7 linked regions of the Homo sapiens genome follow. The protein of the gene in region 1 purifies or fractionates together with the protein of each later gene. This does not show direct contact. Each region holds a gene or a part of one and is shown in the gene's direction. Other genes may lie near its edges.

What was found.
Region 2: the proteins of C5AR2 (region 1) and SLC12A9 purify together in Homo sapiens (affinity purification with mass spectrometry; 2 studies listed by BioGRID and IntAct, with this or other methods). This does not show direct contact.
Region 3: the proteins of C5AR2 (region 1) and EVI5L purify together in Homo sapiens (affinity purification with mass spectrometry; 2 studies listed by BioGRID and IntAct, with this or other methods). This does not show direct contact.
Region 4: the proteins of C5AR2 (region 1) and PDXDC1 purify together in Homo sapiens (affinity purification with mass spectrometry; 2 studies listed by BioGRID and IntAct, with this or other methods). This does not show direct contact.
Region 5: the proteins of C5AR2 (region 1) and GAK purify together in Homo sapiens (affinity purification with mass spectrometry; 2 studies listed by BioGRID and IntAct, with this or other methods). This does not show direct contact.
Region 6: the proteins of C5AR2 (region 1) and GOLPH3L purify together in Homo sapiens (affinity purification with mass spectrometry; 2 studies listed by BioGRID and IntAct, with this or other methods). This does not show direct contact.
Region 7: the proteins of C5AR2 (region 1) and ABHD17B purify together in Homo sapiens (affinity purification with mass spectrometry; 2 studies listed by BioGRID and IntAct, with this or other methods). This does not show direct contact.

Annotation. Positions count from the first base shown.
Region 1 is NC_000019.10:47,338,671-47,343,168, forward strand, and holds part of C5AR2 (C5a anaphylatoxin chemotactic receptor 2), read left to right. Parts: intron 1-1,816; exon of another isoform or gene 1,817-1,942; intron 1,943-2,114; 5' UTR 2,115-2,129; coding exon 2,130-3,143; 3' UTR 3,144-4,498.
Region 2 is NC_000007.14:100,861,966-100,865,362, forward strand, and holds part of SLC12A9 (solute carrier family 12 member 9), read left to right. Parts: intron 1-715; coding exon 716-862; intron 863-3,321; coding exon of another isoform or gene 3,322-3,359; exon of another isoform or gene 3,360-3,394; coding exon of another isoform or gene 3,395-3,397. UniProt on the Homo sapiens protein: May be an inhibitor of SLC12A1. Seems to correspond to a subunit of a multimeric transport system and thus, additional subunits may be required for its function. May play a role in lysosomal ion flux and osmoregulation.
Region 3 is NC_000019.10:7,846,807-7,851,304, forward strand, and holds part of EVI5L (EVI5-like protein), read left to right. Parts: intron 1-925; coding exon 926-1,115; intron 1,116-2,114; coding exon 2,115-2,339; intron 2,340-2,449; coding exon 2,450-2,524; intron 2,525-3,190; coding exon 3,191-3,316; intron 3,317-4,498. UniProt on the Homo sapiens protein: Functions as a GTPase-activating protein (GAP) with a broad specificity.
Region 4 is NC_000016.10:14,977,415-14,981,912, forward strand, and holds part of PDXDC1 (pyridoxal-dependent decarboxylase domain-containing protein 1), read left to right. Parts: intron 1-3,468; exon of another isoform or gene 3,469-3,559; intron 3,560-4,498.
Region 5 is NC_000004.12:869,558-874,055, reverse strand, and holds part of GAK (cyclin-G-associated kinase), read left to right. Parts: exon of another isoform or gene 1-755; intron 756-830; exon of another isoform or gene 831-988; intron 989-3,151; coding exon 3,152-3,345; intron 3,346-4,498. UniProt on the Homo sapiens protein: Associates with cyclin G and CDK5. Seems to act as an auxilin homolog that is involved in the uncoating of clathrin-coated vesicles by Hsc70 in non-neuronal cells. Expression oscillates slightly during the cell cycle, peaking at G1.
Region 6 is NC_000001.11:150,661,960-150,666,457, reverse strand, and holds part of GOLPH3L (Golgi phosphoprotein 3-like), read left to right. Parts: intron 1-2,694; coding exon 2,695-2,826; intron 2,827-4,498. UniProt on the Homo sapiens protein: Phosphatidylinositol-4-phosphate-binding protein that may antagonize the action of GOLPH3 which is required for the process of vesicle budding at the Golgi and anterograde transport to the plasma membrane.
Region 7 is NC_000009.12:71,872,924-71,877,421, reverse strand, and holds part of ABHD17B (alpha/beta hydrolase domain-containing protein 17B), read left to right. Parts: intron 1-2,338; 5' UTR 2,339-2,341; coding exon 2,342-2,808; intron 2,809-4,498. UniProt on the Homo sapiens protein: Hydrolyzes fatty acids from S-acylated cysteine residues in proteins. Has depalmitoylating activity towards DLG4/PSD95. Has depalmitoylating activity towards GAP43. Has depalmitoylating activity towards MAP6. Has depalmitoylating activity towards NRAS.

The DNA of each region.
Region 1 (4,498 bases):
TAATAATAATAATAATAATTAATCAGGCATGATGGTGTGCACCTGTAGTCCTAGCTACTTGGGAGGGTGAGGTGGAGGGTTGCTTGAGCCCAGGAGATGGAGGCTGCAGTGAGCTGGGAAAGTGCCGCTGCAGTCCAGTCTGGGCTACAGAGCCAGACCCTGTCTCAAAAAATAGTAATAATATAGTAATAATATTATTGTGGCCCGACATGGTGGCTCACGCCTGTAATCCCAGCACTTTGGGAGGCTGAGGCAGGTGGATCACCTGAGGTCAGGAGTTCGACACCAGCCTGGCTAACATGGTGAAACCCCATCTCTACTAAAAATACAAAAATTAGCCAGGTGTGGTGGCATGTACCTGTAATCTCAGCTACTTGGGAGGCTGAGGCAGGAGAATTGCTTGAACCCAGGAGGCGGAGGTTGCAGTGAGCCGAGATCATGCCACCACACTCCAGCCTGGGCAACAGAGCAAAACTCTGTCTCAAAAAAAATAAATTATTGCTATGATAGATTATGTCGCTTCCTTGCTCAGCACCCTCCTATAGCACCTGTCTCATTTGGAATAAATGATGATGTCCTTGCGTTGCCCACGTGGCCCTACATGCCGTGGCCCCTGATAACTGTTTTTCATTTGTTTTGTTTTGTTTTGTTTTTTTCTTTTTTTGAGATGGAGTCTTGCTCTGTTGCCCAGGCTGGAGTGCACTGGCATGATCTCAGCTCACAGCAACCTCCGCCTCCCTGGTTCAAGTGATCCCTCCTGCCTCAGCCTCCTGAGTAGCTGGGATTACAGGCGTCCACCATCACTCCAGGTTATTTTTGTGTTTTTAGGAGAGATGGGGTTTCACCATGTTGGCCAGGCTGGTCTCAAACTCCTGACCTCAGGTGATCCACCCACCTTGGCCTCCCAAATTCCCGTGATTACTGGCATGAGCCACTGTGCCCGGCCCCTGATGACTCTGCTATTGCCTCTCACCCTCTCCCTCTGGCAGATTCCACTCCAGCCACACTGGGCTCCTTGCTGTTCTTGGACATGACCGTCATGTTCCCACCTCAGGGCCTTTGCACTGGCTGTTCTCGATGCCTGAAACACTCTTCCCCCAGATCTCGATGCATCTCTCCCACTGTTCCTTCAGATTTTTATGCAAATGTCACCTTCTCAAGAAGCCTTCCCTGACCATGCCTGTACAACTCCAACATAGCCAGCTTCCCTGTGTGATATTTTTCCCATAGTATTTATTATCTTCTAAAATACTGTGGATTTTGGATTTTGCTCATTTCTTTCTTTCTTTTCCTATTTTTTTTTATTTTTTGAGACAGAGTCTCTCTCTGTCATCCTGGCTGGAGTGCAGGGGTATGATCAAGCTCACTCAATCTCCTGGGCTCAAATGATTCTCCCACTTCAGCCTTTTCGGCAGCTAGGATCACAGGCACGCATGACCATGCCTGGCTATGTTTTAAAAAATTTTCGTAGAGATGGGGTCTCCCTATGTTGCCCAGGCTGGTCTAGAACTCCTGACCTCAAGTGATCTTCCCACCTTGGCCTCTCAAATCGTTGGGATTACAGGCCTGAACCACCGTGCCCAGCCCCAATATTCCAATGTACTAGGGTTCTGGCATTGTAATATTCTAGAATTCCAAGATGCCACTTCTAACAACACTAAGTTCTAGAATTCCAATTTTTTTTTTTTTTTTTTGAGATGGAGTCTCACTCTGTCTCCCAGGCTGGAGTGCAGTGGTGTGAGCTCAGCTCACTGCCACCTCCACCTTCTGGGTTCAAGAAATTCTCAGCCTCCCAAGTAGCTGGGATTACAGGTGCCCGCCACCACACCCAGCTAATTTTTGTATTTTTAGTAGAGACGGTGTTTCACCATGTTGGCCTGTCTTGAATTCCTGACCTCAAGTGATCCACCTGTCTTGGCCTCCCAAAGTGTTAAGATTACAGGTGTGAGCCACCACACCCGGCCTAGAATTCCAATATTCTAAAGCACTGGAGTCCTTATGACGCAATATTCCAGTTTGCAAGGTGCTGGTGGGCCGGGCTGATGGACACCCTAGATCTCCAGGGCCATGGAGTTTCCTCCTCTGAGTTTTCATCGTCTTTCTCTCCTGCCCAGACACCAGGAGCCTGAATGGGGAACGATTCTGTCAGCTACGAGTATGGGGATTACAGCGACCTCTCGGACCGCCCTGTGGACTGCCTGGATGGCGCCTGCCTGGCCATCGACCCGCTGCGCGTGGCCCCGCTCCCACTGTATGCCGCCATCTTCCTGGTGGGGGTGCCGGGCAATGCCATGGTGGCCTGGGTGGCTGGGAAGGTGGCCCGCCGGAGGGTGGGTGCCACCTGGTTGCTCCACCTGGCCGTGGCGGATTTGCTGTGCTGTTTGTCTCTGCCCATCCTGGCAGTGCCCATTGCCCGTGGAGGCCACTGGCCGTATGGTGCAGTGGGCTGTCGGGCGCTGCCCTCCATCATCCTGCTGACCATGTATGCCAGCGTCCTGCTCCTGGCAGCTCTCAGTGCCGACCTCTGCTTCCTGGCTCTCGGGCCTGCCTGGTGGTCTACGGTTCAGCGGGCGTGCGGGGTGCAGGTGGCCTGTGGGGCAGCCTGGACACTGGCCTTGCTGCTCACCGTGCCCTCCGCCATCTACCGCCGGCTGCACCAGGAGCACTTCCCAGCCCGGCTGCAGTGTGTGGTGGACTACGGCGGCTCCTCCAGCACCGAGAATGCGGTGACTGCCATCCGGTTTCTTTTTGGCTTCCTGGGGCCCCTGGTGGCCGTGGCCAGCTGCCACAGTGCCCTCCTGTGCTGGGCAGCCCGACGCTGCCGGCCGCTGGGCACAGCCATTGTGGTGGGGTTTTTTGTCTGCTGGGCACCCTACCACCTGCTGGGGCTGGTGCTCACTGTGGCGGCCCCGAACTCCGCACTCCTGGCCAGGGCCCTGCGGGCTGAACCCCTCATCGTGGGCCTTGCCCTCGCTCACAGCTGCCTCAATCCCATGCTCTTCCTGTATTTTGGGAGGGCTCAACTCCGCCGGTCACTGCCAGCTGCCTGTCACTGGGCCCTGAGGGAGTCCCAGGGCCAGGACGAAAGTGTGGACAGCAAGAAATCCACCAGCCATGACCTGGTCTCGGAGATGGAGGTGTAGGCTGGAGAGACATTGTGGGTGTGTATCTTCTTATCTCATTTCACAAGACTGGCTTCAGGCATAGCTGGATCCAGGAGCTCAATGATGTCTTCATTTTATTCCTTCCTTCATTCAACAGATATCCATCATGCACTTGCTATGTGCAAGGCCTTTTTAGGCACTAGAGATATAGCAGTGACCAAAACAGACACAAATCCTGCCCTCAGGGAGCTGATATTCTTCTAGTGGAGGAAGACAGACTATAAACAAAGATATATAGGGCCATTTGCGGTGGCTCACGCCTGTAATTCCAGGGCTTTGGGAGGCTGAGGCAGGTAGATCACTTGAGGTCAGGACTTCAAGACCAGCCTAGCCAATATGGTGAAACCCTGTCTCTACTAAAAATACAAAAATTAGCCGGGCATGGTGGCGCATGCCTGTAGTCCCAGCTACTTGGGAGGCTGAGGCAGAAGAATCGTTTTGAACCCGGGAGGCAGAGGTGACAGTGAGCCAAGATTGAGCCCCTGCACTCCAGCCTGGGCGACAGAGCGAGACTCCGTCTCAAAAAATAAATAAATAAAAGATTCTATTTATTTATTTATTTTTTTGAGATGGAGTCTCGCTCTGTCGCCCAGGCTGGAGTGCAGTGGCACAATCTCGGCTCACTGCAAGCTCCGCCTCCTGAGTTCACGCCATTCTCCTGCCTCAGCCTCCTGAGTAGCTGGGACTACAGGCGCCCGCCACCATGCCCAGCTAATTTTTGTATTTTTAGTAGAGAAGGGGTTTCACCTTGTTAGCCAGGATGGTCTTGATCTCCTGACCTGGTGATCCACCCGCCTCAGCCTCCCAAAGTGCTGGGATTACAGGCGTGAGCCACCGCACCCGGCCAAAAGATTTTAATAGGATCCCTCTGGTTGCTGGTGGAGGTGAGAGTATGGTGTAGGGGCAGTGAAGATCCCAGAGAGGAGGCTACTGTAATGGTCCAAGCAGGAGGTGATAGCGATTTGGATCAGGGTAACAGAGCTGAGGTGGTGAGAGGCTGACAGGTCATGCATCTATTTTGAAGGAAAGGCCAAGTCCAGGCTCCTTAGCTCGGCATTCAAGGCTTCTCTCCACCACTGGACACACTTACTCTCTAGCTTCTCAGACCCTGTAGCAATCAGAATCATGACCCCCGGTGATGTCCACATCTTAATCCCCTGAACCTGTGAAGAGGTGACCTTCCATGGCAAAAGGGACTTTGCAGGTGAGATTAAGTAAAGGATCTTGAGAAGGGGTGGTTATCCTGGATTGTCTGGGTGGGCTCAATGGAGTCACGAGGGTCCTTTTAAGAGGGAGGCAGGAGGGTCAGGGTCAGTCACAGGAGGTGACAACGG
Region 2 (3,397 bases), on another chromosome or scaffold:
TTTTTTTTTTTTGAGATGGAGCTTCGTTCTGTTGCCCAGGCTGGAGTGCAGTGGGACGATCTTGGCTCACTGCAACCTCCACCTCCCAGGTTCAAGTAATTCTCCTGCCTTAGCCTCCTGAGCTGGGATTACAGGCACACACCATCATGCCTGGCTAGTTTTTGTATTTTTAGTAGAGAAGGGGTTTCACCATGTTGGCCAAGCTAGTCTCGAACTCCTGACCTCAAGTGCTCCGCCCATCTCGGCCTCCCAAAGTGCTGGAATTGTAGGTGTGAGCCACCACGGCCAGAACCCCTCCCCCGCTTTTTTTTGAGACAAGGTCTTGCTCTGTCACCCAGGCTGGAGAGCAGTGGTGCCATCATAGTTCACTGCAGCCTCAACCTCTTGGGCTCAAGTAATCCTCCTGCCTTGGCCTCCTGAGTAGCTGGGACTACAGGTGTGTGCCACCAGGCCTGGCTCATTTGTAGAGATGAGGTCTCTTTATGTTTCCCAGGCTGTCTGGAACTCCTGGCTCAAGCAGCCCTCCCACCTTGGCTTCCCAAAGGGCAGGGATTACAGGCATGAGCCCCGACACCAGCCCCTCTGCCCCTTTTATCCTTTCCCATGACCCCTCCAAGTAGCCATAGCCCTGCCCAGGCCCGTCTGTGATTTGGACTCTAGGAGACATTGAGTTTGGACAACACTGGCTACCTTCCTTTCCTTATCTTCTCTGTAGACTCCCTGCCCTCGGACCCTGTACAGCCGCAGTATGGGGCATGGCTCAGCCTGGTGGACCGTGCCCAGGTGAAGGCTTTTGTGGATCTAACCCTCTCACCCTCCGTGCGCCAGGGGGCTCAGCATCTGCTGCGAATCTCCGGCCTCGGTGAGCTGCTTCTCCCTGGATGCCCTCGGCCTTCCTCTGTGGCCACTTCAAATCTCCGCTCCCCTCCCCTAGAGAGTCAGCCACAGATTGCAAACTGCAAAAGGACCTTATAGTCGAGAGGAGATAAGACAGTGCTCAAAGATAATAGCCTCAGACAGTGTGTGATAAGGTCTAATAGGAGATGCTAGGGACTAGTGATGGGGTGGGCGATGTTGTGGGTTTTTTTTCCTTCTTCTTTTTTTTTTTTTTTTTTGAGACGGAGTCTCACTCTGTCTTGCCCAGGCTGGAGTACAGTGGCACGATCTTGGCTCACTGCCTCCTCCACCTCCCAGGTTCAAGTGATTCTCCTGTCTTAGCCTCCCAAATATCTGGGACTATAGGCATGTGCTACCATACCTGGCTAATTTTTGTATTTTTAGTAGAGATGGGGGTTTCACCATGTTGCCCAGGCCAGTGTCGAGCTCCTGACCTCAGGTGATCTACCCGCCTCGGCCTCCCAAAGTGCTGGGATTACAGGCATGTACCACTGTGCCCAGCCTTTCCTTCTTTTTTTTTCTGATCCAAAAATTGGGGCATAGGCACTGAAGAGTGTATTTTTGGAGACAATGGAGCATTATTTGAATCTCCAGCTGCCTCATCAAATCAGATGGTTTTTAACCACCAGTGTTCAGAGGAAGGCAGGCCAGCCACTATACACTGATGTGGCCAGCAAAGGTTTTGCGGAGAGATGGTAATTCATCCAGACTTTGAAAGAGGTTGGGATGTAGGAGATGTAACATGTCTCCCCTGCCCCCGCCACCCAAAGCCACAAAGGATGCCGGAGGCTGTGTGGGGCGGACGTCTGTGGATGGAGCGGTAAATTCTCAGCTTTTAGCGCTGAGGCCACCAGGGTTATCTATGCTCAGTCACTGCCTTTTCCCTTAATCCTGGACCAGTGCCCGTCACCAAAGTGCATGCTTCCTTCTCTATTCAGAGTCTGGCTAAAGTTCAACAGTGTTGGACATTGCCCAGTTCAGTGTAAATCAGAACCCTGGGAAATACTGAGGAGGGGGCATGACTAGTTTATTTTGCAAGATCAGCTGGAATTCACACCTGCGGAGATGTTTTGGGGTGTCGTCAAGCATCATTGACCCACAGAACATCTGAGAGCCTGGTCTTCACTTTTTGTGCAGAGACCACAATGCTTATGAAATACGAAATTTTTCCTGTGGAAGATATCAGGTCGGTGCAAAAGCAATTGCGGTTTTTGCCTTTTTTTTTTTTTTTTTTTGGACAGGGTCTCACTCTGTTGCCCAGGCTGGAGTGCAGTGGCACAATGTCAGCTCACTGCAACCTCTGCCTCCCGGGTTCAAGTATTCTCCCATCTCAGCCTCCCAAGTAGCTGGGACTACAGATATACGCCAGCATTGTCCGGCTAATTTTTGTATATTTTTGGTAGAGACGGGGTTTCACCATATTGCCCAGGCTGATCTCGAACTTCCAACCTCAGGTGATCCGCCTGCCTCAGCCTCCCAAAGTGCTGGGATGCCATTTTAATGGGGGAAAAAAAGAACCACAATTACTTTTGCACCAACCTATTCCAATAAAAGGAAAAGTAGTTCCTTTAAATGGTGGATTCTCCTGTCATAGAAAATTTGATTTATGGCTTGAGCAGTGTTTGTTTCATGAGAAGGGGTCTTGGAAGAGGTCTCTGCGTCTCCCTGTAAACTCAGCAATTATCCGATTCCACAAGGGTTGTTCAAAAATTAAGAACGAAGAGCTTGTCAGCAGGGACTTGGAGCATTGTGGTTGCCACGTGCCCAGCTCGGTGGCTCAGAGTGTGGCCTCTCACGCTGGATGGAGGCGGATTGCGTTGACCTACCTGCCCCAGTACCTACCAGATATGAGCCTATGGGCAAGTGACTTCATCCCTTGGTGCTTTGGGCTCCTTATCAGTAAAAAGAGGAGACTAAATATTACCTACCTCATAGCATTACTTCGAGTTTCAAATAAGTTAAAATATAAAGTGCTTTCTACAGGACATAGCCCCTGGTAAGCGGATACCATGCAATGAACCACCATGATTAGGGTTTTGGTAAAACCTACTAGGGTTAGGGTTTACTGCAGTAAACATACGGGGTAGCCCTGTTTCTTTTTTTCTTTTTTTTTGAGATGGAGTCTCGCTCTGTTGCCCAGGCTGGAGTGCAGTGGCGTGATCTCGGCTTACTACAACCACCACCTTCCGGGTTCAGGCAATTCTCATGTCTCAGCCTCCTGAGTAGCTGGGATTATAGATGCCCACCACAATGCCCGGCTAATTTTTGTATTTTTAGTAGAGATAGCATTTCACCGTATTGGCCAGGCTGGTCTCAAACTCCTGATCTCAGGTGATCAACGTGCCTCAGCTTCCCAAGATGCTGCGATTACAGGTGTGAGCCACGGTGCCCTGCCTGGTCCATTTTTTCATCTTCCCATTGCAGAGTCTGGGACGCTATTACCCTGGGGATTCAGGTCATGAGCTTGGCTGATCAGGGTGTCTGGTTTGCACAACAGAGT
Region 3 (4,498 bases), about 39 Mb from region 1:
TGGATGAGGGACAGACACCTCCTTTCATCCTCCCAACCCTGGCTGAATATATGTGTCCCCACCCTGTTCAGATGAGACTGAAGGTTTGAGAGGTCAAGTGAATCTGTGAATCCGCCGCGGTTAATGGAGCCAGGACTGGAGGAAGAGTCGATTCGGGCCTTCCTGCTTTCTTCCTCTGACCCTACCCCCATTTAAAATGCAGGTTTTAGGCTGGACGTGGTGGCTCACACCACCGAACACTTTGGGAGGCCGAGGCAGACGGATCACTTGAGGTCAGGTGTTTGAGACCAGCCTGGCCAACATGGTGAAATCCTGTCTCTACTAAAAACACAAAAATTAGCTGGGCATGGTGGTGGGTGCCTGTAATCTCAGCTACTTGGGAGCCTGAGGCAGGAGAATCACTTGAACCCGGGAGGCGGACGCTGCAGTGAGCCAAGATCACGCCACTGCACTCCAGTCTGGGCAACAAGAGCAAAACTCCGTCTCAAAAAAAAGGGGGCGCTGAGGGCAGTGGCTCAAGCCTGTAATCCCAGCAGTTTAGGAGGCTGAGGCAGGTGGATCACCTGAGGTCAGGAGTTCGAGACCAGCCCGACCAACATGGTGAAACCCCATATTTACTACAAATATAAAGTTAGCCAGGTGTGGTGGCATGCACCTGTAATCCCAGCTACTCAGGAGGCTGAAGCAGGAGAATTGCTTGAACCAGGAGGCAGAGGTTGCAGTGAGCTGAGATCACACCACTGCACTCCAGCCTGGGCGACAGAGCAAGACTCCATCTCAAAGAAGAAGAAAAAAAAAAGAACAAGAGGGACCTAATCCCTGGTGTCCTCTAAGACCCCCAGGAGGGGGAGGATGGGCTGGGCTCGCCAAGGATCCCTGTCCCCAGGGAGTCACTGGTTCCCCTCTGTCGGCCCTTCCTGCCCAGGCTCCTGGAGGCCGACTCCAAGTCCATGCGCTCCATGAATGGCTCGCGGCGGAACAGTGGCTCCTCGCTAGTGTCCAGCTCCTCGGCCTCCTCCAACCTGAGCCACCTGGAGGAGGACACGTGGATCCTGTGGGGCCGGATCGCCAACGAGTGGGAGGAGTGGCGGCGCAGGAAGGAGAAGCTGCTCAAGGTGGGGGGCGGCCAGGCAGGCAGGGCTGGGCCGACGGCGTGGGCAGGTGGTGCGGTCACTCAGCCACCAGGCAGCGCCAGGGTCTGCGGGGCCCCAGCCTGGGCACAGCGGCAGCAGTGGAGATGTGCAGGCACTTTCAGGGTGTCCTGCCAGAGCACAGGGACAGGAGAGAGTGAGTCAGGGTGGTGCTGGACAGGCCCTGCACCCTCGAGTGCCCATGTGCTTGCTGCCCTGTAGTGCCCATGAAGGATGGGGGTGTGGTGGCTCACGCCTGGAATCTCAGCACTTTGGGCGGCCAAGGTGGGAGGATCGCTTGAGGCCAGGAGTTCGAGGCCAGCCTGGGCAACGTAATGAGACTCCGACTCTATAAAAAGTTTAAAAATTAGCCAGGTAGGCCGGGCGCAGTGGCTCACGCCTGTAATCCCAGTTCGTTGGAAGGTCGAGGCAGGCAGATCACCTAAGGTCAGGAGTTCAAGACCAGCCTGGCCAACATGGCGAAACTCCGACTCTACTAAAAATACAAAAATTAGCTGGGCGTGGTGGCGTGCACCTGTAATCCCAGCTACTTGGGAGGCTGAGGCAGGAGAATCACTTGAACCTGGGAGGCAAGAGGTAGCAGTGAGCCAAGATCACGCCACTGCACTCCGGCGTGGGCAACAGAGTGAGACTCCATCTCAAAAAAAAAAAAAGTTTAAAAATTAGCCAGGCGTGGTGGTGCACAACTGTAGTCCCAGCTACTCAGGAAGCTGAGGCAGGAGGATCGCTTGAGCCCAGGAGTTCAAGGCTGCAGGGAGCTATGATCGCACCACTGCACTCCAGCCTGGGTGACAGAGGGAGACCCTGTCTCTGAAAAAAGGGGGTAAAAAAAGGATTGGGGACCATGAGTTCTGTGCCATGCTTGAGGCCTGGATGAGCCACGCCTGAGGAGCTGGGCTGGGTGGCCACGGGGAGGCTGCGCTGGGACCGAGTCCAGCCCCCGCTTCCCGCTCCCGTGGCCAGGAGCTGATCCGCAAGGGCATCCCCCACCACTTCCGGGCCATCGTGTGGCAGCTTCTGTGCAGCGCCACGGACATGCCCGTCAAGAACCAGTACTCCGAGCTGCTCAAGATGTCCTCGCCGTGCGAGAAGCTGATCCGCAGGGACATCGCCCGCACCTACCCGGAACATGAGTTCTTCAAGGGCCAGGACAGCCTGGGCCAGGAGGTCCTCTTCAACGTCATGAAGGTGAGGCCCAGGGCTCCCCGCTCCCTCGGTCCCAAAGGAAGGAGAAGTTCCCCAGTTCACCGGCTGTGCTGGACGGCGGGACCCTGCTCTCAGGACTTGTTCCCTTCTAGGCATACTCGCTGGTAGACCGGGAGGTGGGCTACTGCCAGGGAAGCGCCTTCATCGTGGGCCTGCTCCTCATGCAGGTAGGTGGCTGGGGGGTGGCTGGGCTCCTGCCAGACAACAGCCCACCCTGGGCTCGGCCCCCAAGAGATGGACAGAAGTGGCGTGTCCTCCACCCAGCGTCTTGCTAGGGGTAGATCCTCCTTCTCCATCCACACCCGTGACCTCTGCCAATCGCCAGGCCAAGGCCCAGTGAGTGGCACCTGTCTGGTTGGGTCCTGTCTGCTGTACCATCCAGGACAGAGACCGGGTTTGGAGGGATAGGCTGTCTCTCTCTGCCACATCTCAGGGTTGGACAGGAACCTCAGGCTGGGGACTTAAGCCATCCAGCGTGGTGTTTATGGGGCTTGGGGGTCTCCTCCAGAGAAATCGGGAGGCTGACAGGGAGAGAGGACGCAGCTGGGACAGGAGGTATCCTAACCAGGGGGATGCTGGCAGTGGCCAGCCCTGGGTTCAGGTCCAGCTCCCCTGTTTCCTGCCGAGTGGCCCTTGGCAGGTGACCTCAGCCTCAGGTCTTCCATCAGTAAAACAGCTTGTGAGGACACAGGGACCAACAGTGTGTCATGAGAGTCTAGGGAGCCAGGTACCGACATGGACATGGGCCCCTGTACCCCAGGGCCCTGATGAGCAGCGAGATGCCCCTCCCCGCTGCGCTGCCCTGAGCCCCCCCACCTGCCCGTCCCCCCTAGATGCCTGAGGAGGAGGCCTTCTGTGTGTTCGTGCGGCTGATGCAGGAGTACCGGCTGCGGGAGCTCTTCAAACCCAGCATGGCCGAGCTCGGGCTCTGCATCTATCAGTTCGAGTACATGCTGCAGGTGAGCAGGGCCGCAGGAGAGCAGGGCTGCAGGAGGGCAGGGCCACAGGTGGGCAGGGCCGCAAGGGAGCAGGATCGCAGAAGGGCAGGGCTGGCACCCTAGACCATACCCGGGCACCTCTTGGACTGAAAATTCCAAGCCTGTGAAATCACACCTGGACGTTCCAACTCCAAAAGGCACTCCTCTTTCCATGCAGCACTGCCCTGAAGGATGCTTGGAGGAACAGGAGAGCCACCACTGAAGGGGGGCTCCCAGGGCTGCTGAGGCAGAGGGGTGGGGCAGGCTCACATCGGACACAGCCACAGCCACCTCCCTGTCTGCTCCAGAGTGTGGTGGAAGGAGGGAGTGTTGTCTGCCTGCCTGATTACTGGAGAGCCGCAGACGTCTGTTTATAAATAGCAGCCCCCGCAGGGCCTGCTCCCGGCTGGCAGGCAGAGCCGCCAAGGCCGTTTGCGAACATACACACACCCGCATGCATACACACACACGCAGACACACACACACACACCGGCCCGCCTCAGCTGCCATGGCAGGTGGGGCTGTGCAGTCATCCCTGGATGTGACAGCCCCACTCCCTGGGCCTGGATCATGGACGGTGCTGTAGCCTTAGGGGGCCTGGTAGTGCCACAAGCAGGAGGCCTGGGCTGCAGAGAAGGCACCACCCCACCTCAGGCTGGGTAGCAGAGCCCTCCCACAGCCAAGCTTGCAAACTCAGGGCGCAGAGAGCCCCTGGCGCTGGGAGGAAGCCCGGGATCCTAACGCCTTCTCCGGCCTCAGTTTCCCCAGCCGTCTGCCACTTTCTGGCTGTCTAGAGTTCAGGCCAATCCAACACAGCTTGCACAAAGCTTTATGCTGGGGTCCAAGGGAGGTACAGTGGCTGGCAGGTCACGTAACAAGGTGGGGGGGGGGCTCCCCCCAGGGCCAGAGGCTGCCACTTGCCCATGCTCCACCTCTGGGTCTCAGGGTGTCTGTGGGGAGTGACCCAACTCCCCCAGCCTCAGACACACCCTCTCAGGCTGTCGTGAGGACCCCATGAGCTGCCACGGGCGCATCACCTACCCAGGGTGGGCCCCCAACACAGGCGGCTACAGATCTTGCCATCCCTGCCTGTCCCCCACCCCGTGCTACTCAAAGCTCGGGGGTGCTTCGGCCTCCCTCAGACAGAGTGCTGAGGGAGCACCA
Region 4 (4,498 bases), on another chromosome or scaffold:
GACTACAGGCGTGTGACACCACACCCGACTAATTTTTGTATTCCCAGTAGAGATGGGGTTTCACCACGTTGGTCAGGATGGTCTCAAACGCCTGACCTTGTGATCCTTCAGCCTCAGCCTCCCACGGTGCTGGGATTACAGGCGTAAGCCACTGCACCTGGCCGGGACTTAGATTTATATTCCCTGAAGTAATACAGGGCCTTAGATGGAATAAACGATTTATATTGGTGCTAATTGGGCAGAAAAGAAAAAGCATTGCTGTAATATGAATGTTGATGACTTTATGTTCTGAAAAATAGTCTGGGTCAAAGTGAAACATTTAATTGTGTTCATTATTCCTGTTTCTTTGAGGAATAGACTATCCTGCGTTAAATTCTACATTGTTAATATAAACTCAAGAGCTATGTGAGCAGTTGTAAATGATCCCATTTAAACTGATTGTTGCATAATTTATACTGATTACAGAAACCACAATGTTATTTGATGCTCACCCTCTAAAATTTAAAATAATATCTCTCACTTTAAAATGTATGTGAAAAAACAAAAACAAAATGTAGTATGCGATCATCATTTAGTAGAATCACTCAGTGATTTGGATTTGGTCCAAATATAGTTCTGTCCCTTGCTTTTTCTGTTATGTAAACGTGCAGACCTGTGATAACAGAGCCATTTTCTCGTCACGATTTGCTTTTCTTCCACAACAGTATCAGTTTTCTTGTATCTGAGATCAGTGATGTCCCAATAAATCAGATGGGTTAATTGAGGAGGCAAAGGAAATTCAAACTTAGGAGAGTAGGAGTAGGGGCTTTGCCCCTGCCCCCCACTGTATGTCCAAGGCATAAGGAACAAGGCCCTGTAGCAGAGTCTCACAGTGTGTACTTATGTTAATATTCAATAAGGAAAATGCCACAGGAAGTAATCACTATAATGATGAAGATTTTAAGTTATTAAACACACCTTCCAGTAAAAACCTGTTATATTATTATTATTTTTGAGACAGGATCTCTCTCTGTCACCCAGGCTGGAGAGCCGTGGTACAATCTCGGCTCACTGCAACGTCCGTCTCCAGGGCTCAAGTGATCCTCGCGCCTCAGCCTCCTGAGTAGCTGGGACTACAGGCACTCACCCCCACACTGAGCTAATTAAAACAATTTTTTTGTTCTCGAGACAAGGTCTCACTATATTGCCCAGGCTGGTCCCAACCTCCTGGGCTGAAGCCATCCTCTTGCCTTAGCCTCCCAAAGTGCTGGGATTATAAGCGTGAGCCACCGTGCCAGGCCAAAACCTGCTACTCTAAACTTGTAGAATAGCCCAGACCTTTTTCTGTTGGTTAAAAGATCTCATTCTTCCTGGGTATTATGTTTAGGCAAGGTATACTGCAGTTTGTTTGCATTTACTTTAATTCTGTCCTTGAGCAAACTTAAAGCAGTTTCTCAGCGTCAGCACTAGTGATATTTTGGGTCAGATAATTTGCTGTTATGGGGGCTGGCCTGTGCATGGCAGCATGCTTAGCAGTGTCCCAGACCTCTGCTCAGTAGATGCTAGTCGCACTCCCTACACCCAGTTGTAACAATAAGAAATGTCTCAAGATGGGGGCAGTTGTCCCCCAAGGGGTAGAGGGAATTGCCTGTCATTGAAAGTCCCTAATTTAGGGAATCTAGAGCTACAGTTCCGGTTTGGTCACCACTAGCCATATTTGGCAGTTTACATTGAGATTAAAATTAAACACAATTTAAAATTCATTTCCTCAGTCATGCTAGCCACATTTCAAGTGCTCAGCAGCCACATGTGGCTGATGTCTGCTACACTGGGCAGCACAGATGTGGAACATTTCCATCGCAAAGAAGGTTCCACTGGACAGTGCTAAGAGCTGGCAATTCGTGTTTTTTTTTTGAGATGGAGTCTCCCTCTGACGCCCAGGCTAGAGTGCAGTGGCACAGTCTCTGCTCACTGCAACCTCTGCTTTCCGGGTTCAAGCGATTCTCCTGCCTCAGCCTCTCAAGTAGCTGGGATTACAGGCACCCACCACCACACCTGGCTAATTTTTGTATTTTTAGTAGGGATGGGATTTCACCATATTGACCAGGCTGGTCTCAAGCTCCTGACCTCAAGTGATCCACCCGCCTCGGCCTCCCAAAGTGCTGGGGTTACAGGCATGAGCTACTGTGCCCAGCCAATTACTTGTTATATCTAATTCTCATCTCTGAAAGAGGCAACTTTGACCCTGTTTCTGACCTAAATCAGCACAACTCAGCCCATTTTTGGTTCTTGAACTCATCCTGAGCTAAGTGTTTCTTTCCTGCTATTTGGGACTGATTTTAGAAAATTCTTTGTCACCTTGCTGTTATGCTAGAGGTTTATAGCAGCATCAATGGAACATTCCTGATCATTACTTACTGATAAGGACTCCGAGAATTTCTATTCCTGCTCCTTCCTTAAAAAGCATGAGAAAAGAACCCCTGTTAGGCAAGGTTGAAATGACCAGTTTCCGTGTATGGCTTTGTAGATCCCACTCTTTTATATAGAATGAGAGGAGATGAGAGGCTGTAATTGTAGCTTTCATATAAAGCCAATTCCAATGTTACAATGTGAGGGTTTTGCATACAGATGCATGGTGGCTATGGCTGTAAATGATTATCTAATACTGGCTGTCAGGGAAAACTGATGGGACTCGGCCATAGTACAAAGTTCCTGATCCTAGATATTTATGGCTTTGTTCATTCTTGATTTATTCAATTTTGCAGGGGAAGTCAGTGGCAGAGCTATTGATGGTCCCATTTCCGTCTTTGCTCCACTATATCTAGGATTATATGAGTTATAGGTAGAAGTTGGTTGAGCTTGATTTCATCTGTTGTCACCTAAAGCAGAAACCTGTTTTGATTTATAATTTTTTTTTTTTGAGACGGAATCTTGCTCTGTCACCCAGGCTGGAGTGCAGTGGTGCGATCTCAGCTCTATGCGACCTCTGCCCCACTGCAACCTCTGCCCCCTGGGTTCAAGCAATTCTCCTGCCTCAGCTTCCCGAGTAGATGGGATTATTTTTGTGCCACGCCCGGCTAATTTTTGTTTTTTTTATTTTTTATTTTTTTGAGATGGAGTCTCGCCCTGTGGCCTAGGCTGGAGTGCAGTGGCACAGTCTCGGCTCACTGCAAGCTCCACCTCCCAGGTTCACGCCATTCTTCTGCCTCAGCTGGGACTACAGGCGCCCACCACCACACCCAGCTAATTTTTTGTATTTTTAGTAGAGATGTGGTTTCACCAAGTGTTAGCCAGGATGGTCTCGATCTCCTGACCTCCACCTCAGCCTCCCAAAGTTCTGGGATTACAGGCATGAGCCACCGCGCCTGGCCAATTTTTGTATTTTTAATAGAGACGGGGTTTCGCCATGTTGGCCAGGCTGGTCTCCAACTCCTGACCTCAAGTAATCTGCCCACCTTGGCCTCCCAAAGTGCTGGGATTACAGATGTAAGCCACTGCACCCGGCCTTGATTTATAATTTTTATTAATCGAAGGTGAGCTGTGGTCAAAGCCCAATGCTGAGTGCTGACAGAGACACAAGGTGAGTAAGATGTGGCCCCTGCAGGAGGTTGCGTTCTGGTAAGGGAGTATACTTTTTTTTGGACAAATCCTTGTATAGAAAGGGATAAAAAGCATAGGAATTAAGAAACAAATTGTGAGTGCAAGGAGCAAGTGACCAGGAAGGATTATGTGAAAGAGATTCTTTAGGCAGAATATTTAGCTCAGAATTATGCTTTTCTAGAGTTTAATTGTAAATATAATGCAAACCTTTACTTTACGAGTGTGCCTCATATTATTGCTGGTAGATAAAAATCAAGAAACAGGAAAAGCATTTCATCTTTACCTTTCCGATTTGATCGCTCCCTAACAATCCCTGAACAAGGTAAATCCTGAATGGTGATAATCATTCAACCTTCATCTCTGCTAAAAGCATTTCTTTTCCTCCCAGGCAAAAACAAACAGTGCCTGCTGTCTAGCACTAGTTAAACTAGTTAAACACTGCCTATAAAGCTTATCTTAAGGAAGAGTTATAACAGTATCTGCTTCTGTTTAGCAGTTTTCTTTTTGTTCCAGAATAAAGGTGTGATTCCAGGTAAACAGTAAAGTTTTTAGAAATAGAGCTTCCCTATTGTATGCTATTTTTCCATCAGTGTCATTATCTGGAAGTGTTTACTCGTGTTATAAGATCTGTGTGAACTGACACTGCAGTAGTGGTCTCTGGGAACACAGGTTTTTGGAACACGGAGTTGGATCTCTAGCATCTCCAACGTATATCTGAGTCAAGTGATTAGAGGCTTTTTCCCTCCTTCACATACTGCTCTCTGACTGAGATGTGATCTGTGCAGTTAACTTTGCTGCCTCCTTTCCACTGTTGGGTATTTTTGTCCTTTTCTTTTGTTTCTTTTTTTTTTTTGAGATGGAGTTTTGCTCTTGTTGCCCAGGCTGGACTGCAGTGGTGCGATCTTGGTTCACTGTAACC
Region 5 (4,498 bases), on another chromosome or scaffold:
CCAATCCCTAGGGCAGATTAAAGATGCAATCAAGAAGAAAAATGGAACAAAAAATATGTGATGAATTCGCCAGAACAACGTAGAGATAAACAAACAAACCCAGGTGGGATATAGATAGAAAACAGCCAGCTGGTAGACCGACGCCCTGCTGTGCCTGTCAGTCATCCCATTGAAGGTGGATAGAAGACACACTCCAGTTAATCGGGCTGGATTAAAAACCAAGCTCACACAAAACTCAAGTCTATACTGCTTACAGGAGCCATACTTCAAAACCCTTGCACACGAAGACCTAGCAAGGCTGAAGTGGAATAATTGGAAATTGCTTACCATGCAGACCATAACAGGAAGAAGGCTGGTGTCACTGTCCATATCAGGTGGGATAGACCAAGGCAGGAGGTGACGGGTGACGTTGCAGGGGCGAGGGCAGTGACATGGCTTCAGTACAGGCAGCACAAAGGGCAGAAGGAGGGGTGAAGTTGACAGGCCCACGCTGATGGCCGCCTCTCTCCCCAGGCAGTGGAACAGGTAGACAAGAACAGGATATAGTTTTTTTTTTTTTACAAGGTTTAACCAACTTGACCTGAGTTTTGCAAACTTCAGCGAATACTTGGAGAAATGGCATCTGTTCAAGTGGGCGTTTATTAAAGTGGACTCCACGTTGGGTCATACAGCAAGTCTCAAGGCATCTCAACAGTGGATTAAAGTGGGAATCAGTGACAGGAAAACACCCAGAGACCGTATGCTCGTTAAGTGACCTGTGTGCCAAAAAGGAAATCACTGTTGAAATGAGAAAATATTTTAAACACATTGATAATCAAAATACCACTTACCAGATGTGTGGGGTGCATCTGAAGCAGGGTTTAGAGGAAATGTGTAACTTCAAATGCATACATTAAAAGGAAGAAAGGTTGGTTGCGCACAGTGGCTTACAGCTGTAATTCCAACACTTTGGGAGGCAGGAGGATTGCTTGAACCTGCGAGATCAAGGCTGCGCTGTGGGCGAGAGGCGTGTTCCCTGCGTGGTGAGCCTGCGCCGTGCCTGGGCGAGAGGCGTGTTCCCTGCGTGGTGAGCCTGCGCCGTGCCTGGGCGAGAGGCGTGTTCCCTGCGTGGTGAGCCTGCGCCGTGCCTGGGCGAGAGGAGCACAGGGTTGCAGCCATGGCACAGATGTAACAGCTGAGCCTGTCAGGAGTCCGCTCTGCCCTGTTGGAGCTAGTCTGGCAGGAGCCTGCGGGCAGTGTCCTCTGCAGTCCAGGGCTCTCGGGAGTGGCCAGCCCTGCTCACAGACCTCATTGTGCCCTCAGCGCCAGGCTGGGTGAGCCGAGCCTGCAGGCCCAGTGCCCAGGGCCATCTCAAGGGGCAGCTGGGGGAGGGAGGCTGGGCATGAGCGGCACTCCCTCTGGGGCTGCCCAAGTTCGGTCTGTCCCAGGACCCAAGCCCGTCTGGCCGACCTGGCTCCCTGCACACTCCCTCCCTCCGTGCCCCTCCCACTGTGCCTCTCCGCCCTCGGTCGTGGCCGGTCTGAGCCTCCGCTGCGGTGGCCGTCGGATTCTCTGCTGGTGCCTGCAGGCTCCTCTGCAGACGTTGCCTCCTCCACATCTCCACGCCAGCTGTGCCACCGCTGTGCAGTCCCTGCCACCCCTGACGACAGACAGCGGCACGCAAAGAGGCTCGGGCGCAGGGGGAAGCTCGTGTTGGCCCCGGCTGGAGTGCACATCAGTCCCGGCTTCGGCCGTGGCCACCTCCGCCCAGAGCCTTGAGTGGGCATTGAGGGGGCGCTGCTCTGCGTGAGGTTGGCCACCCCTCAGGGCGGGCACAGGGTGCTCTCCCCTCGTGCAGGGAGAGGATGTTTTAGAGGGTGAGCAGGAAGGGGTGAACTAGAGGCCTTTCACACATCACAGGCATGTGTGGAGCTCAGAGAAGTGACAGTTAAAACCAGCCGTGGCTCTGACCCACACAGGCCGCCGGGCCCGTCTCCCTGCCCTCCCTCGGCGGATCCCACTCTGCTCTGGGTGTTCCTGGCCCTGCAGACACTGGCAGCCTGGGTTTCCCAGGAACTGGCCGCCACTCTTTTGTGTTTCTTCTTTATTTTCTTAGGTGTATAACATTCAACATGTAGAGATTTTAGGTGGCGTAAAATAAGACAGGCATGGGGAGCCTGCTGCCCGCTGGAGAGCCCAGGCTTATCAGTGCAGTTTATGACAGTGGGATCAGAGATGATCATAGGAAATGTGTGAAATAGCCTGGAATTCCTTAGAGAGCTGTGGGGCTGGGAAATGGTCAGTGTCAGGTCACACCTGCCTCCCCGTGCGGCCAACACCCCAAGGCGGGCCCTGCTGACCCCTGCCCCTGCTCCCCACCCACATGGCCGACACCCCAAGGTGGGCCCTGCTGACCCCTGCCCTGCTCCCCACCCGCACGGCCGACACCCCAAGGCAGGCCCTGCTGACCTCTGCCCTGCTCCCCACAGCTCAGCCTGGGCTGCCTCCCCAGCCCCACAGTGAACACAGCTTTGTTTCCCCCGGAATCATGTTCCCAATTCCCTGGCAGCCGGATTCTAGAGGTCTTGGTTTTATGGGCATCTGTTGACAGTTGTGGATTTTTGTCAGGGCGGACGTCGTCATTTTTATGGAAAACACATTTAGTATCCCAGAGTGCGTGCTCTGAGCTGCCGGGTGGCTGCAGTCTGTGTGTGCTGGGTAGTGAGGGCCAGCGCCTGCCTTGGAACCCTGGGGTCCCACCTCAGAGCTGCCTGCCTGGGTGCCGGAGTCTCCAGCTGTGGGATGTTGTCCCGTCTGCTCTGAGCACGTGGCCTCCCCTGGAGTTGCAGGAAACATGGCGGCCCCGCCCGGTGCCCCTCTGCCTTGAACACAGTCGCGGGCATCCCCACTGTGACGTCCGAGGAGCGAGTGAAATGATGCTCTTCTGGGGCCGTGACCGGGGGTGCTGGTGCCCTGTGGGTTCCTGGGACAGCTGCTGGGTCAGCTCACAGGGCTCCAGCTTCCGCAGGCGGGGGTGGCCGGCTGCCCTGGTTGTTCTCGCCCCGCTGCCTGCAGCTGCCACCTGTTTCCATGCACGTTTCTTTAGTGAATGTCCAAGGACTTACAGACTACTTGGGTGGCCTTCCTAAGTGGTGTCTACTTGTAACCGCAGGTATGACCTGGACGCGTGTGACATTCAAGAAAAATACCCGGATTTATTTCAAGTGAACCTGGAAGTGGAGGTGGAGCCCAGGGACAGGCCGAGCCGGGAAGCCCCACCATGGGAGAACTCGAGCATGAGGGGGCTGAACCCCAAAATCCTGTTTTCCAGCCGGGAGGAGCAGCAAGACATTCTGTCTAAGTTTGGTAAGATCCCGCAGGTGAATTAGGTGAACCCTGTTCTGGTGAGTGTCTCTGTGGAGAGAGACACCTTTGGCTGAGCTCTGGCAGGGCTGGGCCCCACGCCTGCTGCTGCACCCAGGCCCTGAGCAGCTTGGGCTGCAGGAGGTTTTGGAAACTCCGTCGTGGATGTTGGACACCACCACCAGCTACACCAGAGAAGGACTCGCAGGCTGCAATTTCTGAGGCCCATGGGCAGGGACGGAGGCAGAGGGAGGAAAACCCAGGCTCCTGGAGCGAAGCGGGGTTTTGTCCCAGGCGTGTGTCTGGGTCAGATTTTTGTCATGTGTGCTGGACACACGTCCACTCTCACTGTGAGCCTCAGGCCTGCTGGCAGCATGTGGAACAGAACCCTCGCTCCTGTCGCTCTTCACTTCCGAGCAGTTTCGAAACGGCAGCCCAGGAAGTGCTGGCAGGTGGGCCCAGGGCCGTCCACTGCTCATGCCACGCTTGTTCTCGGCTCTTGGTTTGCAGTGTTTGCTTTTTCTTTCTGAGCATCTTCAGCGTCCCTGAAAGAGGCTGTATGTGTGACCTGTGCGTGCTGTGTATGTGTCCGTGGGTGGTGTGTGCCGTGTGTGTGTGTGCACGAGTGGTGTGTGCATTCATGTGTACTGTGTATCTGTGTGCTGTGTGCATTCGTGTGTACAGTGCATCTGTGTGTGCTGTGTGTGCGTTCGTGTGTACCATGCATCGGTATGTGCTGTGTGTGCGTTCGTGTGTACCGTCCATTTGTGTGTGTGCATGCATGTGTACTGTGCATCCGAGTGTGTGCATGTGTGTGTACCGTGCATCTGTGTGCGTGCATTCATGTGTACCCTGCATCTATGTGTGCTGTGTGCATTCATGTGTACTGTGCCTGTGTGTGTGCATTTGTGTGTACCATGCATCTCTGCTGTGTGTGCATTCGTGTGTACTGTGCATCTGTGTGTACTGTGTGCATTCATGTGTACTGTGCATCTGTGTGTGCTGTGTGTGCATTCATGTGTACCCTGCATGTGTGTATGTGCTGTGTGTGCATTCGTGTGTACTGTGCATCTGTGTGTGTGCATTCATGTGTACCCTGCATGTGTGTATGTGCTGTGTGTGCATTCGTGTGTACTGTGCATCTGTGTGTGTGCAT
Region 6 (4,498 bases), on another chromosome or scaffold:
CAGGAGAATTGCTTGAACCTGGGAGACGGAGGTTGCAGTGAGCCGAGATTGTGCCATTGCACTCCAGCCTGGGTGACAGGTGAGACTCCATCTCAGAAACAAACAAACAAACAAAAACTCTCCAGAAAGCAATACAGAGAACAAGCAAATGGAAAATATAAAAGGTTAAAAGACGGGGTTAAAATAAAGACTGAAGTCCTAGAAGGAAAGAAAAAAGAAAATAAAGGAGAGCCAAAGTGCTTAGAGACCTAAGAGCTGAGAATTTTTGAAGCTAAGAAATGAAACCACAGTTATGGGAAGCACAACATATACCAAACAGAATAAATAAATTCATGCACAGTCATGTTATAGTAAAACTGCAAAACACCAAAAGAGAAGATCTTAAAGGACCAAAGAAAAGATACACCACCTACAAAAAAACCACAATCAATAAGAAAGATAGATTTCTCACTGCTATATTAGAAGCTGGAAGAAGAGGGCATACTATCTTCAATGTGATAACCTGGAATGATCAACCTGGAATTTTATGTCCAGAGAAACTATCTTTCAAGGATGATGGTGAAATACAAAGACATTTCAGATAAGCAAAATAGAAACTGCCTCCAACAGACTTTCACTTAAGGAAATTCTACTTTAGGAAGAAGAAAAATGGTGCCAGAAAGGAAGTCTGAGATACAGGAAGGAACGGTGAGCAAAGAAATTCGTAAGCACCTGTGTAAATCTAAACAAGTGCTACCTGTATAAAATAATAATGATGATGATGATATCTAATTTATGAGGCTAAAAAAAAATACTGGACAACTAAAAGAGTGGTTAAAATATTAATATTTAAAATTTAGGTTTTATGTTAATTTTAAATTAATGTATCATGCATGTTAAAATTTCAAGGATAACTTCTAAAAGTACATAACTTCCAAGCCAATAAAGAGGAAAATTGAATTAAAAAATTTTTTAAATAGTTATTATAGCTAGGTGCAGTGTCTCATGCCTGTAGTCTGAGCTACTTGGGAGGCTGAGGCAGGACAATTGTTTGAGCCCTGGAGTTCAAGTCTACAGTGAGCTATGATGGCCCCACTGCATTTCAGCCTGGATAATGGAGCAAGACCCCGCCTGTCTCTTAAAAAAAAAAAGTAACCCCAAAATATGCACAACTATGATCTATCAGTAAAACACCACCAAAAAAACAACCACTTAAAAATTTCTCTATTTAGCTTCGTGACCTCTGTTATGCTGTATAACCTCTGTAAGCCTTAGTTTTCTCATCTTTAATGTGTGGGTAGTAGTAGTACTTCCTTTATAGGGTTGTTGTGAAGATATAATCAGATAATGCATGTAAAAAGCTTAGCACAAATCTAGTACATAATAAGTATTAGCACATATCTAGTATATAATAAGTATTCAATAGACATTAGTAATTAAACGTTACTGCTGTTAGACAATACCAGTGGCTCTCTTATACGTATATTCCCTATACAAAGGGAAGGGGAGCTAACATTTTAAGTGCCTGCTATATGCCAGGCACTATACTAAATGCTTTCTTATATATTGTATCTCATGTAACCCTCATAACAATCTTATGAAAATATATATTGGTGTCTGCATTTTATAGATGAGGACAATGTACTTCAGAAAGTTTAAGTAACATAACCAAGGCACTTAATGACAGTGGGTTTCTATTATACCTCCCATCAAAAGAACTTCAAATTGGCTGGGCACGGTGGCTCACTCCTGTATTCCCAGCACTTTGGGAGACTGAGGCTGGTGGATGACGAGGTCAGGAGTTTGAGACCAGCTTGACCAACATAGTGAAATCCCGTCTCTACTAAAAATACAAAAATTAGCTGGGTGTGGCAGTGCACACCTGTAATCCCAGCTACTCAGGAGGCTGAGGCAGGAGAATCGCTTGAACCTGGGAGGCGGAGGTTGCAGTGAGCCAAGATCACGTCACTGCACTCCAGCCTGGGCGACAGAGCAAGCCTCCATCTCAAAAAAAAGAAAAAAGAACTTCAAATTAATACATATCTAGGAGGATTAAAAGCTCAAATGCTTTTTACTTTTTTCTGACTTATTTTACCCCACTCTGAAATTTTGTGTCATGGAAACAGACTTCAAAAAAGCCAAAATTCTCCTCAAAAATTAAAATTTTGCATGTCAAACCAGGTGCAGTCACTCATGTCTGTAATCCCAACACTTTCGGAGGCCAAGGTGGGAGGATAGCTTGAGGCCAGGAGTTCGAGACCAGCGTAGGCAACATAGCAAGACCTTGTCTCTACAAAAAAATTTTTTTTAAAAACAGCCAGGCATGGTGGCACATACCTGTAGTCCCAGCTACTCAGGAGGCTGAGGTGGAAGGATTGCTTGAGCCCAGGAGGTCAAGGCTGCAGTGAGCCATGATCATGCCACTGCATTTCAGCCTGGGGGAAAAAGCGAGACCCTGTCTCAAAAAAAAAAATTGCACATCATTTATTGACTAACAGCAAACCATGGAAATTCACTAAAGATCTTGAAGTCAGACAGAAAATCATATTTGGGGGTGTTTAAGAGGATTAAAGAAACATCCTCTTACTCTATACTTTGAGTTCATGTAGTATGATGTGAAACGAATCACAACAAAGCGGCCTGTTCTTAGGGTGCCTGCTGGAAGTCAGTATTCCTCTCAAAACATTCTTTCTCTTCTCTTTTCTCCTTTCCTAGGGGTACACATCTTTCTGGAATGACTGCATATCATCAGGCCTGCGAGGGGGCATCCTGATAGAGCTGGCCATGCGGGGTCGAATCTATCTGGAACCCCCGACCATGCGTAAGAAGCGACTACTAGACAGAAAGGTACTGAATCCTCTGTGAACGTCCATGGCTTATGGAAAGGCAAATACCAACAGTACATTTGGGAAGAATAGAAAGATTTGAGTAGTAAGATAAAATAAATATCACTGACTCAGCAGTTCCATTGTCTAAACAGGTTAATTACCCTATTGCAAGAGGGAGAAATCAAAGTATCCATAGTCCAAAGAGTTATAGGAAGCTCCTGGTTTTGTCTTCCTTTTTTATGCAGAAAAATCATACTCAGGATGCTGTTGATTAAATTCCTCCTATATCTATAGCTATAACATTATGAAATAGCCGGGCACAGTGGCTCACGCTTGTAATCCCAGCACTTTGAGAGGCCGAGGCGGGCGGATCATGAGGTCAGGCGATTGAGACCATCCTGGCTAACACGGTGAAATCCCATCTCTACGAGAAATATTTAAAAAAAAAATTAGCGGGGCATTGTGGCGGGCGCCTGTAGTCACAGCTACTCGGGAGGCTGAAGCAGGAGAATGGCGTGAACCCGGAAGGTGGAGCTTGCAGTGAGCCAAGATCCCGCCACTGCACTCCAGCCTGGGGGACAGTGCAAGACTCCGTCTCTAAAAAAAAAAAATTACGAAATAGAGTATGATGTAGGGAGAGGGACTCATATGGGTCAGGTCAGTCATTGATTAACCCTGGTTATTCTCCAATAATATTCTGTTTCCTTCCATTTACTGCAAGTCCTTTCCAACCATACTCCTGTATCCATTTTCTTACTGAATTTTTCCACTCACAACTTCTTTATCATCCTAAGCACTCCACTTAAACTACATTCTTAGGTATCACCAGCTTCTTTTCAGTCTTTGATTTATTTTTCTCTTTTAACCTATATGTGTCATTTGACACTTTTTATCACTTTGAAACTTTCTTCATTATTGGCCTTTGTTATTATCTTATTCTCTTGCTTCTCTGACTATACACTGTTTCCTTACTTCTCCATTTCTTAACATCCAAGTCTCAGTTTGTATCACTTGAGTGATCTTCTGTCCTTTCAGAGATATCATTTACCTTTATAGCTTCGTCTGTCACCTTCATGAGATTAATTTTCAAATTTCTAGGCAGGTCTTGTTTTTCCACCTCCAGAAACATATTTAACTATTGGCTAGAAATTTCAACTTGGCTATCCCATATCATTTAAAACCAAACTTAACAAAAATGAAAGAAAACCAAATTATCAACCTTTCCCCAAAACTGACTTCCTTTTCTGACTTTCCTGCCTTTGTTTATTTATTTATTTATTTATTTAAATTTTTATTTTTTTAATAGAGAAAAGATTTTGCCATTTTGCCCAGGCTGGTCTCAAACTCCTGAGCTCAGGTGATCCACCCGCCTCAGCCTCCCAAAGTGCTAAGATTACAGGCATGAGCCACTGAGCCCAGCTGTTTCCTACCTTTATTAATGGTTTCAAAAGTTGGTTTCCAGACTCAAAATGAGTTGTTATTGAAACTTTTCTCCATTATCATTCATATCCAGTTTGTCACTAGGGCCCACTTCAAATGTTATTTTTGTCTTTGCACTATCACTCCATACTATATTTTAAACTTCTTGAGGACAGAGACAGTATATTATGCTTCCTTACATTCTTGCAATTTTTAACCAGTAACATATACATGATATATTGAAAGATTTTAACTTGAATGAAGTGAAGGAA
Region 7 (4,498 bases), on another chromosome or scaffold:
AAAGTGTTTCTGGCTAAGAGATAAATTATAGGACTATAGTCTAGATACGTACCATTTACTTATTAAGCTTTTTAAAAGGCTATTGTGGCTCAGCAGTCAATGGTATATGAGGTAATCAGGGTTGACAAATAACCATAGACAGATATTAAACAGACAGCACTGATATTATACCTTGTACCTCATCATCTTTCTGCAGGTCATTTCCTCCTCTGGAACAGATCCTTTGAGTTCCTTCCCTTTCATCTTCTTCAACAGACACTTTATCCTCCTGACCAGGATAGTAAATTTGTAGCCAGAGTCTATAGTAAACATCACTAATTTATCACATCTTTTGCTGGCTAAGCCCTGTGTATGCCTTAGAATCATTCTCAGCACAACACTTCAGGAAGCCCTCAGTTAAAGTTAGCAGATGACACTTAGTTGTTATTTCTGTCCTATTTCTTGTTCCAACCAGAGTAAGCCATTAACTTATTCAGGCTGTATTTTGAAGCCTAAAAAGAAATAAAGGTAGGAAGCAATTAAAGCATTTCCTAATATCCAAGATGTTTTTCTGCCCTTCCCTCACCTTTTGAAGTCTTTTATGTTATACCTACCCTTGTTCCTCTCTTCCTGTGCTTTTTTCTGCTGCTTCTTATAAACACATTTATACTGAGCATTATAGGATATATTTGATTCTGTATTGAGTGAAAAGGGCATTTTTTCCCCCAGATATTCTCAACCATTTAGTCACTCTGTTGAGTTGTTTTCTTCCCATTTTTGGTGTAATAGGGTACTTTTTTCCCCCTATTCTTATATTTAGATTTTTTTTTTTTCTTTTTGGAGAAAATTGGATGCCACCAAACCTGTAAGGTGTTGGTTTTAAATGCCTTTTCTCTGGAACTAAGCAATGGCCTAATTTTGCTAAAAAGAGACAGGAATTTGAAAAAGGACAAGATAGAAGGAAATACTGATAGAACTAACAAGTATTACTTTATTTTTGTCCCTAAGTTAAAGTGTGACAATGATATGGCCATCACTCACCGTATGTTGTATGATGGGCCTTCACTACACCAACATTTGATATTCACAACCAGGTCCTTCAGTGTAGGTATTGGCCTTGTTTACTTATGAAGAAAATGAGAGTCAAAGAGATAGTTTGCCCAAGGACATACAGCTGGCAAACGGTAAGTGGTAGAGTTAGGATTTTACCCCAGCTTCCTAACTTTAAACCTTGTACTCTTTCTCTTCCAAACATTTAGAAAAGTTTACCTTTAGTAGATTTTACCTTTTTTCCACAATAAACTTTATATTATAGCCTTTTTAGTTTGGGCAGTAATTACATACATACATACATGCATGCATACATACATACACTTTAATGTTCTATAGGTTATTTGGGCCACTGGCACTGTGACCAAAGTGATAGTCTTCTGAGCGTGTTCTGAATCTGTGAGGCAGTGTAGCCCAGTAACATAGTGTAGTGACAGCCTGGAGTCAAATCCTGGCTCCACCACTGCCTCATCTTGTGCAAGTTTCCTTTCTCACAACAACTTACACAGTTGTTCTGAGAATTAAACCAAGTAACACACATAGAGCACTTGGCACAATGCCTGACAAATAGCTTCATAAATGCTATTAGTATGTATTCACTTTATGCTAAATTCCTAGCTTCTCCATGAGGTTCTAAGAACTTTTGCTGAGTTACATAGAAATTACAGACTACACTAAAGATATTTCATACCTTCAGGTTATTTGTAAAGAAATGGCAAATATTACCTTTATCATTTTTGACATTTATGTTAAATGAGATAATAATCACTGCTATTTGAAACCTGTCATATAGGATTTGAGTCTGTCTGCTGGTCAGGAATATTTGCCTCACCCCAGGATTTAAAGTACTTCTAGAAAGAAGCCAAAGGCCGGGCGTGGTGGCTTACTCCTTGTAATCCCAGCACTTTGGGAGGCCGAGGTGGGTGAATCACCTGAGGTCAGGAGTTCGAGACCAATCTGATCAACATGGAGAAACCCCATCTCTACTAAAAATACAAAATTAACCGGGTGTGGTGGCGCATGCCTGTAATCCCAGCTACTTAGGAGGCTGAGGCAGGAGAACCACTTGAACCCGGGAGGCGTAGGTTATGATGAGCTGAGATTGCGCCATTGCACTCCAGCCTGGGCAACAAGAGTGAAACTCCGTCTCAAAAAAAAAAAAGAAGCCAAAAATCTGTTTGGAATCATACCTAAAATAGTAATAGTCATTAACCACCAATAAAATTTACCCATGTCTGTGTTTTAACTTTTTATTGTATGAGTCTACATTCAGTTATTAAAATATTTGCTATCTCCTTTTCTTTTTCAGAGCATGAATAATCTTTCATTTAGTGAGCTATGTTGCCTCTTCTGCTGTCCACCTTGTCCAGGGAAGATTGCTTCAAAATTAGCGTTTTTGCCACCTGATCCAACTTACACACTGATGTGTGATGAAAGCGGAAGCCGTTGGACTTTACATCTGTCTGAACGAGCAGACTGGCAGTATTCTTCTAGAGAAAAAGATGCTATTGAGTGTTTCATGACTAGAACCAGTAAAGGCAACAGAATTGCTTGTATGTTTGTACGTTGTTCACCCAATGCGAAATACACTTTACTCTTCTCACATGGAAATGCTGTTGATCTTGGTCAAATGAGCAGCTTTTACATAGGACTAGGATCACGGATTAATTGTAATATATTCTCATATGATTATTCTGGATATGGTGCCAGTTCCGGGAAACCCACAGAGAAGAACCTCTATGCAGACATTGAAGCTGCTTGGCTTGCTCTTAGGACAAGGTAAATTGTGGTTGGAATTTATTTTTCATACTCGTGGTGGTTAGCTAAAAATATCTTGTGTAAGAATAGAATAAAAGCTGTTTTTATTATACATAACTGCTATATAGAGGTTATATTTACTATTATATACCTGTGAATAAATATTTTAGACAGCAATTTTAAATTTCACATAATAGCAAAACAAAGTTTTTAAAGACAGTTTCAGGTTTGTTTGTCTACATTAATACACGTATATATGTATGTTTTTTTTAACTTAAATTCTTAGCTGGAAGTCCATGGTGCATGCCTATAGTCCTAGTTACTTAGGAGACAAAGTCAGGGGAATCACTTGAGGCCAGGAGTTTGAGGCTGCAGTGAGCTATGATCGTGCCACTGCACTCCAGCCTGAGTGACAGCGTCAGACCTCATCTCTTAAAAAGTTAAAAAAAAAAAAAAATTAAATCCAGTGACAAATGTTTGGTTTTTGTAAGCTTTCTTATTGGAGTGTGATATAAAAAATGTTTATTCAAAGCTGCAACCTTTCAAGGAAATGAGAGAAAATACTGACATAGCTAATTATTCACTTGATCTGTCATTAACAGTATGAGGCTGGATTGCTTTCTATTAAAATCTTAAGCCAAGATTTGCATTATTTTATGTGATTACTTCTTGGGAAGTACAACTTAAAGATACCTTATTGGAATTATTTTTCAAGTATTCATTCTGTAAAACTGAGATTTTACTTTATATTCTGTGTTCCTAAAATTGGGAGAGATTATATCAAGTTTAAAAAAATTTTTTAGGCTGGGTGCGGTGGCTCACGCCTGTAGTCCTAGCACTTTGGGAGGCTGAGGCAGGCGAATCACAAGGTCAGGAGTTCGAGACCAGTCTGGCCAACATGGTGAAACCCCATCTCTACTAAAAATACAAAAAAAAAATGTCTGGGCGCAGTGGCTCATGCCTGTAATCACAGCACTTTGGGAGGCTAAGGCAGGTAGATCACGAGGTCAGGTATTCGAGACCAGCCTGGCCAAGATGGTGAAACCCCGTCTCTACTAAAAATACGAAAATTAGCCGGGCACAGTGGCGGGTGCCTGTAATCCCAGGTATTCGGGAAGCTGAGGCAGGAGAATCACTTGAACCTGGGAGGCGGAGGTTGCAGTGAGCTGAGATCACACCACTGCACTCAAGCCCAAGTGACAGAGTAAGACTCTGTTTAAAAAAAAAGAAGTTTTAATGTTATGATAAATTGTTTAATAAAATTTTCTTACTATGTCAGTTATTCTTTGATTATAGCAGCATACATTTTGGGGAACTAGAAATTGCATTAATCTTTTCTAGTCACCAAGATACCTAAACATTTTTCTTGAAAAAAAAATCACAATTTGGTAGACTTCAGTGTATTATTAGTCAGGTTAGTGTACAATAAACAGATACCTTAATATAGGCTATTCTTTATATTATATGAAAATAAAATATCTGACTTCCAGGATGTTTTAGACTGAAGCTATAGGATATAAAGAAAACTTACTGTTTCTAATTTAATGTTTAAATATTAAAGATTTCATTTAGTCAGGAAAAATTTCCTCAATTTTAATAATAAAGTAGTTAATATTATTAAAGATATTAAAAATATCTTTAAAACTATTTTTCCCTCCAAAGAAATGTAATAAAGTTATGCTCTCATAGCGAAGTTCTACATAAAAGGGAT